2 separate regions of the Homo sapiens genome follow, and region 2 is linked to region 1. Evidence: fine-mapped expression QTL. Tissue or cell type: whole blood. Region 1 holds a variant in brackets; the other region holds the start of a gene. All regions are shown on one strand. Distances are between the middles of the regions.

Region 1 (8,089 bases):
ATTAGGGTCTCATTCAGCCCTGCACCTAGCATGACCAAAGCCTCTACATCAAGAAAGCCAGTCAGTGTAGTTTGGTGGCTTAAAGCTGAAGGCATTGCTCCTGTGGGTTTTACATGAAATAACTGGTCAAAAGGTGGGTAATCCCATGAAATGGATGTTGTAGGGGAATTCCTGCTGCAGCTGTGAACTCAGTTGGTGACCTCTATGATTCCCTGAGGCTGATGCTCCCCTGAACTTGCCCTGCTCCAGATGAAAACTGTATCTTTGGACGAAGCCAAGGGGATGAACAATGTCTGTCCTATCGCCTTCATTTGTCTCCAAACTCTGTCTCTGGCACAGATTATGCTATCCACCCTCCAACACCTTCTCACTCTCTCTCTCTCTTCTCCAGTAGAAGAAACCTACCACCTCCTCCATTTTCCATGTAGTAATATGGCTCCTCACAAGTGTAGCGGATGACAGAACCAAACAAAGTGCTCTCTGGGTCTTCAACTTTACCATTCTCAATGGATTCAGGAATGCCACAGTCCACAGCTACCAGACGAAGGAAGGAGAGCGATGGTCAGGACAGCCACTTCCTCCAAGGAAGAGTCATGGGGCCAGGTTCATCCTCACTGCTTCCCCACCCCATATCCACAGGCACACCTGGGATGAACCTCCCCACACCAGCCTCTCTGTGGCCATCCTCCCCAACTGGCATCTCTCAGCTCTCTCACCCGCTGAGATGCCAATTCAGATGGCCCCATGAAAGCCGTAGTGAAGAGCCTGGTTCTCAGTGGTTGGTGAAGGCCCAGTGGAAGCCACAAATGCACCCACGTGGGGCTACTAACTCGACCTATCCCATAGCCCCTTTCTTGGAAAGAAACATGCCGATCTAGTTGGCCTGGGACCAGATGCGGGGCTGGGACTAGAAAAGCTTCCATGACTGGCTTCCCTTCAAAAACCCAACCCACTCCCTCACATGCCTAAGAGGAAACCATGCATTTGAATTTTGATGTGCTGATCTTTCCATTCTCTCTGAGAGAAAAAGAAAGACTTCCACTTTGAAGAGACACATACGTTGACATTTCAGTTTGGAATTACTCCACTTTCCATTGCTTTGACAAGTCGAATAGAAAGATGTTGCACCAACACGTCCCTGGAGAATAATAAACATCACCACTTATTTCTGAAGAGAGATATGGGAAACCAAAATCAAAACTGGAATTGATCTCTGGCCTTGGATCAATGAGGAGTCCTCACCACAAGAAGCTTGGGAACATCTTAGCAGACCTAAAGCACCCAGGAGATGAGGCTGACAGAAAGCTTTGCCCCAACGTGTCAACTCCCCTTCCTCAAGAAGACTGAAGGCAGAGAGAATGCCAAGCTGGCCAGGCAGCTCCATGACTCACAAGGGAGAACTACAGATCTTAAGCTGTTGTGTTTATGGGAAAGGTGTTATACCTTGATCACACACATACATTGGGTAAACAACTGGACAATTTCAGTCCGCTCATCCTGATCTGGGGCCAGGGACTGGGGAGAAGCCAAGGTGGTACTTTACCTCCACAACTTCAAACCCATCCAGACAGGTTATCTGCACCACATCTCTAAAGACATATTTTGCCTTCGCAGGCTCCCAAACAGAATTGGGAGTGTCTTCCTTAGGGCAGGGCATTGCTTGAAAGAACAGAAGTTGGGACAGGAGGAAAAAATTACTAAATAGTTGAAGACTCTCATTCTATTTACATCATTCTCACACTTTCTAAAATCGTCCAGTTGTCCTCAATCCTGATGCTTAACATTCCAATACAGCAGATGTCTAAAATCATATGGCATTACCAACTAACCACCCGCAAGCTGTCTGCAGTCTCAGGTCTAGTTAAAGGATTACTAGAGGTTGAGGCATTTCTAGCAACCGTTGACTGGTTTAGATTTTCCTGAAGAAGTGAAGTATCTCAGGATTCTATCAGAACAACAATCTATCTGTTTTTTAAATTATTGTTGCTTTGTTTTTGTTTTGTTTTAGAGACAAGGTTTTGCTCTGTTGCCCAGAGTGGACTCAAACTCCTACTTCCTGGGCTCAAGGGATCCTCCTGCCTCAGCCTCCCTCGGTAGCTGAGATCACAGGTGCTTCCAGTGTGCCTGGATCATCTACCTGCTTTGATCCCACATTGTTTGGGGACTTTGGTATCACCAACCAAAGAGGCACTTCTAAGTTACTCACGATCTCCATGATAGCGAAGTTTCCAGCCCTTTTTTTGCCCTGTTAGATCAGTTTGGAAGATGATATCAAGAGCATTACTCTTGGTTTCAATATTTAGAGGCCCAGGGAATCCATGACCACAGTAAGGACCAAATTGCCGATCTCCTGCAACAAACTGAACAAAATGATGAAATCAGAAGAGGGAAAGAACTAAAGGGAAGAGGTAAAATTGGGAAGTGGGAGATACAAATAAAAGAGGCATTAAATGTCACATAAAATAAGAAGAAAATAAGGGTCAGGAGAAAAGATAATTTTATCTTCAGGCTGAGTGCAGTGGCTCACACCTATAATCCCAGCACTTTGGGAGGCCGAGGTGGGAGCATTGCTTGAGGCTAGGAGTTTCAGGCTATCCTGAGCAACATAGCAAAACCCCATCTCTGTAAAAAAAAAAAGAATAACAATAAAAATATTAGCTGGGTTTGATGACACACGTCTGTGGGCCCAGCTACTCAGGAGGCTGAGGTGGGACGCTTGCTTGAGCCCAAGAGATCAAGGCTACAGTGAGCTGTGATTGCACCACTGCACTCCAGCTTGAGCAACAGAGAAAGATGCTGTATGAAAAAAAAATTTGTCTTCAGGGAGAGATCTCTCTGTGTAAGTTAAGGGTGGGGTATTAATCAACCATCACGCACAACTAAACTGTCAAGGCAGTTTCCCGCTGAGTCAGCTGCTTCCACATCAAAATCTTCTCTCCGCAAGGTCACCACCACTTGGAACCCTTTCTCCAACCGGATCTGGTATTCACACCTTGAGTTCTCTGGATATGGTTTGGGATAATTGGGACTTGCAATCTCCCCAATCAGTGCAGTGAATACATCCCCACTGCAATTAACTAACAGAGAAA[AAGAGAAAG/G]GGAGAATCAAATACAGGGTCAAGCAAAGGAATTCCTGCACTATTCTATGATTCCTTCTCTCAGAAACTGACAGTCCTGCATTCAAACTAACCTGAGATCCCTGCCCTAACTGGAGGGATAGAGCAATTACACGTGCAATACGTATCAGTAGGAATACCCAATCCCTATTAGGTTTCCATCACTTTGCTTAGGATGGAGCCTTTCTGGTTATGAACAGCCCCCAGTAGACCCTTTACAGGCATCTATCTCTCTTATCCAATTAACTAACTTTACCCTATAGTCTTATCTTCCTCCTTCTTGTGGCTTCATCTCAGCTTATGAGTAACTAAGAATAGATGCCAATACAGAGTGATATAATGGACTCTGGGGACTCAACGTGGGAGGAGGTTGAAACAGGGGCGAGAAAACTACACACTGGGTATAGTGTACACCGCTCAAGTAACAAGTGCACTAAAATCTCAGAATTGACCACTAAGGAACTCATCCATGTAACCAAAAACACCAGTACCCCCAAAACTATTGAAATTATTAAAAATAATACATAAATAAATAAATTCTAAAATAAAAAAGAAGTGCCAAATGAAGGCTTGGCCTAATCGAAGTTGGAAGGGTGGACAAAGCCCTTTCTGAGGCCTCAGCCATTCCAAATCCCAGGGAACATGCAACCCTCTTAACACCAAGCTCACCTCCGCAATTCTTCATGTCATCATGGAGGAAATATTCCGGGGGGCAGGAGCAGAAGTAACCACCAATGAAATTGTTGCAGAAGTGGCTACAAGGGACATCTACAAAATCTGTGCATTCATTTATGTCTACAAAGAGTAGAAAGAGGCTGAGGTCAAGAACAAACACCAAGAAGGGAGAATGAGGTTAAATCCAAAACCATAAGGGTAAGAAAAAGTAGGAAAGGCCTATTGCTTAAAGATCCGTCAAGGGATCACATTTCAGGCTACTATTATTCCATATTACTCTCCTGACATATGATTCCAGAGTTGAGCCCTACCACTACACAGCTATAAGGAAGCTCGGGGGTGTGTGTGTGTAAGTGACATAGCCTCACTCTGTCACCGAGGCTGGAGTGCAGTGGTGGGATCTTGGCTCACTGCAACCTCCACATTTTCAAGCAAGTTCAAACAAGTCTCACGCCTCTACCTCCCGAGGAGCTGGGAACACAAGCACGCACCACCACTATGCCTGGTTAATTTTTCATATTTTTAGTAGAGACAGGGTTTCACCATGTTGGCCAGGCTGGTCTTGAACTCCTGGGCTCCGGTAATCCACCTGCCTCAGCCTCCCAAAGTGCTGGGATTACAGGTGTGAGCTACCATGCCCGGCCTAGGCAGCTCTTAATGTCAGAGATCCTTGACTTTTCTCATGTACAGAGCATTTCAGCTCCAGGAATGACACTCTGCAAGGTAAACATCATGACGATGCCTTCTGCAGGGAGGAATCAGTACATTCATTGCTTTATATGATGTTGGTCCTTCTGTCAAATCTAAACAATAGTTTGGCTTTATGAGATGTCCTAGCTTCATTTTAACCTAGAGAGAGATACAGAAGTACCCAGAATTTGAAGGTTTGAATGCCATATATTGAATGGGTTTAAATACTACACATTCCTTGTGTGATTCTTGGCAAGTTATTAACTTTCCTAGTCCTTATTTTCTTCATCTTTATATGGAGCAAATAATACCTACCTTGAAGGATTAAAGTGACGATTGTGTTAAAATAGGAAAAATCCCCAATCCCCAATACATACCCAGTTTATAGTGGCTCTCAACAAATTGCTGTTTATTATGTACTATGTGTTATTACCATGATCATCATCACCACTAAGATATGATCATGCATTTGAATTTCACAAAAGTGATTTATGGAGCGACCCAGGCCAAGTCAACACTTTTTATAAGAATTACGAACAGAATCCTCATTCAATGTGTTGCTCAGTGGATTTCTCATTTCTAATCTTTTAGCTGGGTCAATAAGGCACATGCAGAAGGGTGAGCCTTACCTGTGGCAACATAGTATGCAGCAAACCCCGTAAAACGCTCTTCATTGGAAAAGTCTGACTTAAAGATCACCTGGAGTTTGTTGTATGGGACTTGGAACTCTTCCACAATTGGAGAGTGGGGATTGTTACTGCTCCTCTGTCCACAGAGCCTCCCTTCTTCAGTGTCTCCTGAGATTATCTAAGAGAAGAGTCACAAAAAAAAAATCTAGGAAAGGGTAATATTTTGGTATGGAGTTAAAAGAAGGGACAGAGAGAATAGAACATTTATGCCACTAGGACTTGACTCCAGTTCACTGTGAGTACAGGTGGCACTCCCTCCCACATCCTTATTCCGCTACCTTAGCCCTAGTCTTCCATCTCTATTCTTTTTGTGCTTATAACATACCTGCACTGAGTCATACGCACAGTTCTCTGACAGCTCAATGTCCAGATGGGTGAAGTAGAGGTGAATCCCATACCCTTCAGGAACTTCTATGTCCCAAGATTTCTCTACCTCACTGGGATATGCCTGAGGATAGTTAGGGGACAGGATCTCCCCATACATGGTAGGCTCAGCATAAACCCATGCCAAAAGTGAAAACAGGACAATGCACCTGAAAAAACAGAGGCATAGATTGGCGGGTGACCAGGCACCAGTAGCCTAGGACAGAACGCGCTATTTGCCAGAGGCAGAAGAAAGGGGGAAGAAGAGAGGCAGTCAATCGGCCATGGGGGAGAATCTTAGGTCGGAATAAAGAAAAGGCCCAGGTCAAACCAAAACCCAGGCTTCAGACAAGAGCCCTTTTTTTTTTTTTTTTGAGACAGGTTCTCACTCTGTCACCCAGGCTGGAGTGCAGTGGTGCGATCTCAGGTCACTGCAGCCTTGACCTCCCGCGCTCAAGTGATTCTACCACCTCAGCCTTTTGAGTAGCAGGGACCACAGGTGACACGCATGACGCTGGGCTAATTTTTTTTTTTTTTAATAGAGACAGGGTCTCCTTATGTTGCCCAGGCTGGTCTCAAAGTCCTGGGCTCAAGCAATCCTCCCGCCTCAGCCTCCCAAAGTGCTGGGGTTACAGGTGTGAGCCATCATGCCTGGCCCTTGAGCGCTTTTCTTGAGAAGATGAAGGGAATGGAGTCTGTGTCATCTCAGGGACCCTTGATCACTTACCACATCTCTGGCGATTTGTCCACCCTGGTGAGCTGCCTGTCTCTTGGTCCTGGCTTTCTGCACCTCCGGACTTTGGAGCCTAAGGGGTGGCAGGCCTGGCTGTATTTGTCTGACAAACACAAGCACCTTCTTTGGTGGTGCGGCGTCACCTGGGGCTCAGTGTCACCTTCAAAGGTATAACACACAGGGCCATATCACCAACATCCCCACATGGCACCGTGCCCCTCACACCCTCCCTAGTTAACTTCGACTAACTTTCTAGACTATAGCTAAATTGTATCCTTCCCTCATTGCTTCTCTAGACTTTCTCCTAATTTTTCTCCAAAGGAATCGAGTACTTTCTCCCAGTTTTCTTCTTCCTCTATTGTCCTCCACCAGCCCCACCCCCGCGGTATCAGTCTCTCTCCTGCCCTCAAGAACGATGCTCCCATTTCCACTCAGGTTTTCAACAGTCTTGGCGCATCATGATCATCCATGTAGGACAGCCCCTCTTCTTTAACCGTGATCACCTCATCTCCTCAAGCAGCCCTGTCTGCTGTTTATCATTGCGTGCATCTCCGCTGATGCTCCCAACGCCCACCGATGGAGGCAGGAGCTTCTTTCACTAGGGGAAGGCAGGGACCCTGGGACAAGCGGTCTGAGAAGGAAGTGCTGCCCCACTGATACAGGGTTGTGCGAGGAAGGAGAAAAGGGACAGCCAAATGACAAGGAACATAAAAACTTCCTACATTCGTTTTCCAGAGTTTGTTTGGAGTTTGTCCCTGCCCCCCACCGCCAACTTACTGAAAATACAAGCTATCTCCCCACAGTTCCTAGTAAAGGGTTGCTAAAATTGCTTTAACCCTGAAAACAGTGGTAGGTAAGGGGGTGAAGTAGGGGTGGATGGGGTGAGCCTAAGAGAAATAGGTTGTCTATATTCTGCCTTTTTTTATGCTGCCTTTGTCAGCCCTCTATCATTGCCCCAAGCCCTCCTACGTGAAGTTTTCTGCCTTTCCTTTTTCCTCCATCAAAGCTCTGCTCCTCGTTTGTAAGGATTTTACCTTCAGAAGCTGGTAGGAGCAAGTGGGTCAGTTCCCTCTCTCCTGCCAGTGGGCATGCTGGGCAACCCCTCTGGCCCCCAGGGACAGCAGCACAGGGCCTTGACGCTCCCTCTGCAGGAACCTCCGGCCAGCCTCCCTGTCCTGGTTCTGTTCATAAGATTCCCTACCCGAGTGTGCATGTCTGAAATTCCCTGATCTAAACAGAGGGGGCTGGGAGACCATGACTTAGGGAAACTCAGCCTTGATCTTGGAGCTCCCTCTGCTTTTGAAACAAGGACAGCGTCCTCCTCCCAGGCCAGAGAGCCCTCTATCCAGGGCTCCAGCGGGGAAAGGAGGAATGGGGAATTTCACCGATTGCTTAATGCTATTTTTCAGCCAAAGGGTGTGTTTCTGAGTTTTCGGGAAAGTCAAGTGATTTCTGGGAAAAGGCGGGGATTGGTACCAGGGGAAATAACCAAACCCAGAAAGTCCAGCCCTCCAAATGTGTGTGAATCATGAATTAAGGGAAAGTAGTTATCAGAAATGTAAGTCATCTCTGCTTTAAAGCAAATGTAATGGTTGATAATGACTTAACACCAAGACCCAAGGTGGTATGGCGTGAGGCTTCCTCTTCATAACATCCCTCCACATCCCTTCCAAACATCGAAATTCTACCCCACAACCAAGCCCCCTTTCAGATCCAACCCAGACTCCCTTATCCATAACCCTTGAAGCCAGGTGTGTTTTGAAATTTTATAGATTTTTTTAGGCTATGTAGTCCATGGACCCAATATTAGGTAACACCTCCTCC
Region 2 (8,082 bases), 45 kb before region 1:
TCCCCCCAAATTCAGACATCCATTTTCATTTCTACATCGGCCTTTCAGCTATACTTCTTTGCTTTTTTCTACTAGTAGTCACCCTAGGGCAACTGTTCTCAAACTTTATACCCTTAAAAAATTATTGAGAACTCCAGAGAGCTTTGGCTTATGTAGGGTATATCTATTAATAGTCACTGTACTAGAAATCAAAATTGAGAACATTTTAAATCACAAAGATACACAAGCACGCATCCCGCTCACTGCCACGGATGAATCATTGCACATCACGTAGCCTCTGTAAATCCACCATATACCATGACAGAATGAGAGGGAAAAAAGCAAAGAACATCTGAGTATTTTTATGAAAGTCATTTTGTTACCTCACAGACCCCGTGAAAGGATCTTAGGGCCTGTGGGTCTTCCCACACCACAGGGTGGAGACCCGCTGCTCTGGGAATTAGTCTGCATCCTAAACTCCAGTTTTCTCAGTTCCTATTGTACCACTTCATGTGAAATGAAGGAAACTTGTAACCATGAGTCCACCCCCTTGTCCTCTATACCAGCAGTCCCCACCCTTTTTGGCACAAGGGACTGGCTTCATGGAAAACGGTTTTTCCACAAACCAGGGATGGGGCCAGAGGGAGATGGTTTCAGGATAGTTCAAACACATTACATTCATTGCATGTTTTCTTTCTATTATTATTGTTATTGTAATATATAATGAAATATTAATAATTATACAACTCACCGTAATGTAGAATCAGTGGGAGCCCTGAGCTTGTTTTCTTGCAACTAGACGGTCCCATCTAGGGGTGATAGGAGACAGTGACAGGTCACCAGGCATTAGATTCTCATAAGGAGCACACAGCCTAGATCCCTCCATGCATAGTTCACAATAGGGTTCGTGCCCCTATGAGAATCTAATGCTGCTGCTGCTGCTGCTGCTGACAGAAGACGAAGTTCAGATGGTAATGTGAGTGATGGGAAGCAGCTACAAATACAGATGAAGCTTTGCTTGCTCACCACCACTCACCTCCAATACTGGTCCACGGCTCAGGGGTTGGGGACCCCTGCTTTATACTACAGTCTTCATATATGTTACAGCTACATATGTTATAAACCTCACAATACAATGTTATAATTTTTGCCTGGAACAGTTCTACATATTTTAAAGACATTAAAAAGAAAATCGTATTTTATATTTACCTTCAAATTTACCGTTCTTCTTATTCCTGTCTGCAGCTCTGCTCTTCCAATTTGAGACAGCGTCTCACTCTGTCACCCAAGCTGGAGTGCAGTGGCACCGTCATGGCTCACTGCAGCCTCCATCTTCCGAGCTCAAGCAATCCTCCCACCTTGGCCTCCCAAAATGCTGGGATTATAGGCGTGAGCTATCGTGCCCGTCCTAAAGAACTTTCTTTAGCGCTTCTCATAGTGGAGGTCTGCTGGCGACAAGAATCTCTGTTTTCTTTTATCTGAAAATAGCTTTATTTCATCTTCATTCTGGAAGAATACTTTCACTAGAAAAACAATTCTGAGTTGACTTTTTTTTTCCTTCAGCATTTTAGAGATATTCCACTGTCTTCTGGTCTATATTGGTTTTGATGAGAAAAGAGTGACATTGAAAATATTGTTCTGTCTAGTCTTTAGGATGGGATTAAAAAAAAGAAAAGATTTTCTCTTGTCTTTGGCTTTTAGCAGTTTGACCATGATGTGCCAAGGCATGCCCTTTTTTTCATTGACCACTCTGCCAGTTAGAGACGAGGTCCCAGTGTAGGGGAGGTGGTGCTGAAAACACAGCGGGGCACAGCTCAGCCCTAGCCCACAGGGGCCTGCAGTGACCAGCTATGCACAGAGCCATCAGCTCCTTCTCCAGTCTCACATCACCAGCCATTCCTCCCCTTGCCCTTGACCCTAACTCATGCTGCAGCCGCACACGCCACCTAGGTGAGACCAAGGTGGGCCCTCATCTTCAGAGTGCTGGATTACCCCAAACAGGGACCACATCCAGACCCTGGACTGCCCAGTCACCTGGGGCTGCCGGTGCATCACTGCCTCCCCACCCTCTTGGCTCCCTGTCCTCTTTCTCACCCAGCCTCACTCCAGCACTTTAACCCCTATCCATTTAGGGTGACCACCAGTCCTGGCTTGCCCAGAACTTCCCTCATTTTAAAACGGAAAGCCTCATGTCCTGGGAAACCCGTCGGTCCCACGCAAATCAGAACAGTCGGTCACCCTACCTGTCCTGGAGTTTCCTTCCAAGGCCTTACTCCTCCCTCCTCCAGCTCATCTCCAGGAAAGTCTTCTCAGATGGGCTAGCCTGAGTTTTCCAGTTCCTGCCCCTCTTAGCAAACAAGGAAATAATGCTCTGAAGGGAAACGAGGGGTGGACTCCCCAATCCTGATCTGAGTCTTGGCTGGTTTCTTCTTAACACATGGGTCTTGGGATTGGTACCATTGTTCACTCTTTGGCTGCATCTCTGGCTCCCAAGGTGCTCCAGGTGACCCTAAGAGTTCTATGAGAGAGCAGGTTTCAGTGGTCTCAGGGGAGGAAAGAAGTCCTAGTCAGAGAGGCCCACTCCTCGAAGATGGGTATGGGAGATCATCCCCAGTTGTGTTTGGGGTTGGGGTGTGGCAGACAGGTAGGCTTGATCTCAAGACTGTACCTGAGACATTGCATCTGTCCTGGCCATCACTCTCTTATCATCTCCTTGTAGCCATAGACTGTGGCTCTCCTAAATCTCTCTAGCCTAGAAAAACCAAAGATGCAGAGCACACCCTGTTTGGGTCTGTAACTTGCCTCCATATTACTATATGCAAAATGGGGGAAGCAATAGATTCTTCTCTGAGAGGTGTGTGTGCGCGCGCACATGCATTTGTGTGTGCATACAACGTAAGGCCTTCCACACACCTGCCTTCTCTGAGGATGGGACCACCCATCTCCATAAGAGCCTTCTGGCCTCCTACCAAGCTGTGGGTGAGTGTCCTTCCTCGGGGAGCGGTGAGAGCAGGCAGGGGCTCTAGTATCTGCCTAAAGAAGCTTGAGTGACGGCTTGAGTGATGACTGGGACTAGGGACTGAGGGACACCTGGGCTCGACCCCAGCCCTGACCATGCTGGACAAGCAGCCTCCAGAGGTTGTGAATAGGATTCAAAAGACCACCTAAGCGCATGTCCCCCACCCCTGCTTGGGGAGGAGGGAAAGGAAGAGAAAGCTCAAGTTCAAGGATCACAAACTTCAATTCTACAAGAGGGAGGCTCCCCGGGTATGTCGTGAACGGAAAGGTCGGGGAGGAAGAGACATGGCTGATTGAAGGCAGCAGCCATAACTCACAAGGAGCCATCCTACACACATGGCAAAAATTAATGTTAAATAGTACAAAAGGGTCGAGTCAGTGCCCTGCCACCCTGACCTCTGAGGGCCAGCGAGGTTTTTGGACGTTTCTCCCCTAAGCTGCGGCGGGCCCGCTGTTCCTGAGTCAGACGGCAGGTGGCGCTCAGCCCGGAGAATTGGAGAAGGGGAACTGTGGAGTTGCTTAACATTTCCAGGAACTTCCTCCTCCCCCACCGGCCTTCACCTTTTGTTCCCTATCCTGGGCCAGTTCTCTCGCAGGTCCCAGATGTCCAGTTCCAGATGCCTGGACCCAGAGTGTGGGGGAAATATCTCTGGAGAAGCCCTCACTCCAAAGGCTGTCCAGGCGCAATGTGAGTGTGGCCCCGGCAGAGGAGGAGGGAAGAGGACGGGAGGGGAAGAGAAAGGGTGGGTGGCCGCAAACCCTCCCTCCCCCCACCCTACCCCCCCCACACACACATCCCCCCCCCCCCCACACACACACACACACACACACCTCCCCCACATACACACACCAGCAGCAGCAGCAGCAGCAGCACAGCAGATATTCCATGGGGAGACTGAAATTTGCCTGTGGCCTCTAGCACCTTCCCAGAGGGTGGTCGGGGGATATTTACGGCAGACCCTCACTCGCCCCACCATTGCTCCCTCGGATCCCAGGGTGGGGTGGGATCTGCTGAAGCAGAAAGCACCCCCCTCCTTTGGACGAGACTCTCCTGGGAGATGAGCAAAGGTGATGTCTTCGGAGGATGGAAAACCCACAATCCTAGAGCTCAGGCTGCGCGGGAGGCTGTAGGGATTGGGGTGAGGAAGGGGAGCAAGGGAGGAGACGGGAAGTGCCCGGGCCTCAAGGGTGAGGCCACAGCTTCTAGCCCTGCCTCGCGAGGCCTCTGAGTCCTAGCGCGGCTCCCCCGCTCCTCCCACACCCACAGGCTTCCGGCCATAGCTGCGCGGCCCCACCTTGCCCTCCCCCCAACTCACAGGTGGTGGCTGCTTCTCTGGGGAGTCCTCCAGGCTTGCCCAACCCGGGGCTCCGTCCTCTTGGCCCAAGAGCTACCCCAGCAGCTGACATCCCCCGGGTACCCAGAGCCGTATGGCAAAGGCCAAGAGAGCAGCACGGACATCAAGGCTCCAGAGGGCTTTGCTGTGAGGCTCGTCTTCCAGGACTTCGACCTGGAGCCGTCCCAGGACTGTGCAGGGGACTCTGTCACAGTGAGCTGGGGATGGGGGGGGTCCCGCCAGGACTGTGGCCAGGGAGATTCCCGGGGTTGTGGGAAGTGGCGGTGCCCTGAATCCCCCATCTGGAGGAGGGATGAATTTTCCATGTAGGGGCAGTCGGGCTTGGCTTACCGGGGAGCAGTGGTGGACCCCAGGACACAGCCTCCCACCAGCGCCTCCGGGGCTGCCATCTGGGCCCCACAGAGCAAAGAGGGCAGCAAGCAGGCCCTGCGTTTGGAAGGCTTATGAATGGACACACAAATCTTGCAAATCTATGGAGCCAGGGGCAGGGACGCACATATTGGTTGTTAAAAATATGTCATCATGTATTTGTTGAGTGCCTGCTCTATCAGGTGAGGAAGCTGGACACAAATAATAACAAAAGATTAAGTCACCGTTCACACTTACCTTGGAAGAGCTATTACAAAACTTCTAACGCCAAAGCCTTATTCAGAATAAGGACATTTTAAAAACAGTACTTGATGGAGTGATGCAAGCTTGCAGTCCCAGCAGTATAGTCAGGAGACTGAGGCTGGAGGATCAGAGGGCTGGAGCCCAGGGTTCAAGGCCAGCCTAAGCAACATAGCAAGACCCCATCTCAAAAATAAGTAAATAATAAATAAAAATAAAAAGAGCACATTATCTTTTGATTTAAATTTTATTTATATCAAAATGACATAAATTTTTGAACTTTATTTTTTAATTTTAAAATTTTTAATTATTATGGATACATAATAGTTGTAAGACTTTTTGTTTTTTAATTAAAGTTTTCTAAGGCTGGGCGCAGTAGCTCATGTCTGTAGTCCCAGCACTTTGGGAGGCTGAGGCGAAAGAAGCACTTGAGCCCAGGAATTTGAGACCAGCCTGGGCAACATAGCAAGACCCCATCTCTACAAAAAAATTTAAAAATTAGCCAAGTGTGGTGGCACGCACCTGTGGTCCCAGCTACAAGGGACGCTGAAGTGAGAGGATCACTTGAGCCTGGAAGGTAGAGGCTGCAGTGAGCTCTGATCATGACACCGTACTCCAGCCTGGGTGACAGAGTGAGACCCTGTCTCCAAAAAAAAAAAAAGGTTTTTAAAAAGGTTTATGAATAACAGCAGTCTCCAAGCTGTTCCTCCCCGCCCCTGAGTGCTGCTCCTCAGGAGCAGTCATTTGCCAATTCATGTAGCTGTTTCATCTGGTCTTTAACTTCATATGTATAAATAACATGCTTATTTGTCTTTCATTTTTACGTATTTTCTATTAATGCTCAACTACAGTATAGAAGATAAGGACTAGCTTTATCTGTCTTCAGTCTTCACCACCCACATTTCCCCTCCTCATTCTGCCAGTTTACCTATATTATCATTTTTAGTTAAATCTTTATTCATTATTTACATTATTATGACTGTAAAATATTCACATCTGAGCACATAGCATAAAATAATTATATTTCTTTTCTTCTCCAACTTTTGGGTTTCCTAGGAGTCAATAGTTACATGGAGTTTTTTTGTTTTGTTTTGTTTTGTTTTTTGGTGGGGGGTGTTTGTTTTTGTTTTGCTTTTTAGTTTGCTTAGTTGTCTCTGTAACTAATCTCACCAGACTCTTAACCAGGAGTGTAAATCTTCTTCTGAAATACTCAAGCATGAATTTCAGTCTATCGGTCCTCCTTTTAATTGGTGACATCCCTCCTGAAGATCTCTCGATTTATTTTCACAGCCTGAGTTCTTTGCTCTCTAAGCCGTCACACATTCTGGGAGTTCTCTTCTCCCTCTTTCTGGGGATTTCCTTTACCTGTGCTGAACCTGAATCCCATACCTTTCTCTTTTTTGGTTTACTCTCCCATTTTGGAGGAGCACCTTCACCAGTGGCTTCCTTAGAAAGGGTATTTTAGAGTGAATTTTAGAAGATCTTATATATGTCTAAATGTCTCAGTTCTACCCTCACAGTGGAGGGATAGTTGATCTGGGTATAGCATTCTAGATTGGAAACCTTTTTCTTCCAGAATTTTGATGATATTGTCTTCTAGGTCTAGACTTTGTTAAGAAGTTTGATGCCCTTATCATTCCTAATCCTTTGTTTTCTCTCTCTAGAACTTTTGGAATATTTTCCTTATTACCAGTATTCTGGACTTTCATTATGATGTCTCTTGATACACGTGGTTTTTTACTCATTGTGCAGATTTCTTTTAATCTAGAGCCTCTTTTAATCTAGTCCTTCAATTCTAGGAATGTTCTTGTGCTATTTTTTAAATAATTTCCAGATATCTCATTTCCTTAGTTTCTCTTTCTCCTATAATTCAGCTGTTGTATGTTCTAGATTGATTCTCTAGCTTTGTTATCTGTTTTGTTCTATTTACCATCTCTTTTGTTCTGCCTCCTGGGAAATTTTCTCATCTTTAAATCCCCATCTTTTAGTTAATGGTTTCTTTCCACTGACATATTATTTCATTTCTAAGGATTCGTTCTAATTTTCTAAATGTGCCTTTTTATAGAGTATTGTTCTTGTTTCATTGATGCAGTATCAACTCCTTTCCCTCCTTTGGGATTATTTTTAGATGTTTCTTCTGTTCTCTATAGTGGGTCTATTTCATCCAAGTTCTTTTTTACCGTTTGTCTGTTTTGGTCTCTGCTTTTTGTGTTAGAGACTTTCCTACGATATCTGATAATACTTGGCTGTCCATTCATATTTAAGGCCGGGCGCAGTGGCTCACATCTGTAATCCCAGCACTTTGGGAGGCCGAGGCAGGCAGATCACCTGAGGCCAGGAGTTTGAGACCAGCCTGGCCAACATGGTGAAACCCCGTCTCTACTAAAAATACAAAAATTAGGCAGGCATGGTGGTGTACGCCTGTAATCCCAGCTACTTGGGAGGCTGAGGCATAAGAATCGCTTGAACCTGGGAGGTGGAGGTTGTAGTAAGCCGAGATCAGGCCACTGCACTACAGCCTGTGGGGTGCAGAGTGAGTCTCTGTCTCAAGGAAAAAAAAAAAAGAGTGGAGCACTAAAATACTGATTGGAAGTTCTGTGTGGATAGCTAAAATTTGTCAAATGATAGGTTTGAAAATAGGGTTATCGACAAGGTGACCTAGATGTGCCACTGGGGGCCTCCCAACTGTCAGGATGTAAAAGCATTTTATTTGGGGGCAGCCAGTTTCCCCTGAGAGGACTCCTGCAGATTCCAGCTCAGGGACCCCAGCATTCTGGTCAACAAGCTGAGAAAAGGGCCTGGTGGAGGGAGATGCAGCTCACTGTTTGGCAGGTAGACTTTCACTTAATCCTTCTGTTTTTGGTACAGTGAGTCCTCACTTAAAATCATCCATAGGTTCTTGGAAAGTATGACTTTAAGAGAAATAACATAGAATGAAACCAATTTGGCCATAGAGCTAATTGATATAGACAAGAGTGAAGTTTCTACAGCAATTACTGATCACAGAAACATCACCAAACCTCTAAATAAAGACCCCAAACACTTCTAATATTAAATATTGAAATACATGTGAACTATGCCTACATGTAAGAAAGGTTAATAAAAACGAATAAGATTATTT

What was found. PIP is the estimated chance that this variant, and not a neighbour inherited with it, causes the effect.
Region 2: C1RL-AS1 starts here. The variant in region 1 is fine-mapped to the expression of C1RL-AS1 in whole blood (TOPMed, PIP 0.97).

The regions. Positions count from the first base shown.
Region 1 is chr12:7,060,088-7,068,176 of GRCh38, reverse strand. C1S (complement C1s) reads right to left here and starts at 7,459. Exons shown (of 12, transcript NM_001734.5): 1 at 7,300-7,459; 2 at 6,260-6,338; 3 at 5,495-5,702; 4 at 5,110-5,287; 5 at 3,785-3,910; 6 at 2,878-3,077; 7 at 2,207-2,360; 8 at 1,544-1,659; 9 at 1,060-1,138; 10 at 406-534. The coding sequence starts at 6,264. RefSeq lists enhancers at 6,871-7,370, 7,371-7,872. The variant AAGAGAAAG/G (reference allele first, on the strand shown) is at 3,090.
Region 2 is chr12:7,104,713-7,112,794 of GRCh38, reverse strand. It overlaps C1RL-AS1 (C1RL antisense RNA 1), which reads right to left and starts at 4,487. Exons shown (of 12, transcript NR_026947.1): 1 at 4,314-4,487; 2 at 3,848-4,122; 3 at 2,648-2,731; 4 at 2,223-2,497; 5 at 1,189-1,770; 6 at 731-788. It overlaps C1RL (complement C1r subcomponent like), which reads left to right and starts at 3,581. Exons shown (of 6, transcript NM_016546.4): 1 at 3,581-3,685; 2 at 4,316-4,544. The coding sequence starts at 3,615. RefSeq lists enhancers at 3,640-3,719, 4,360-4,529, 3,362-4,561.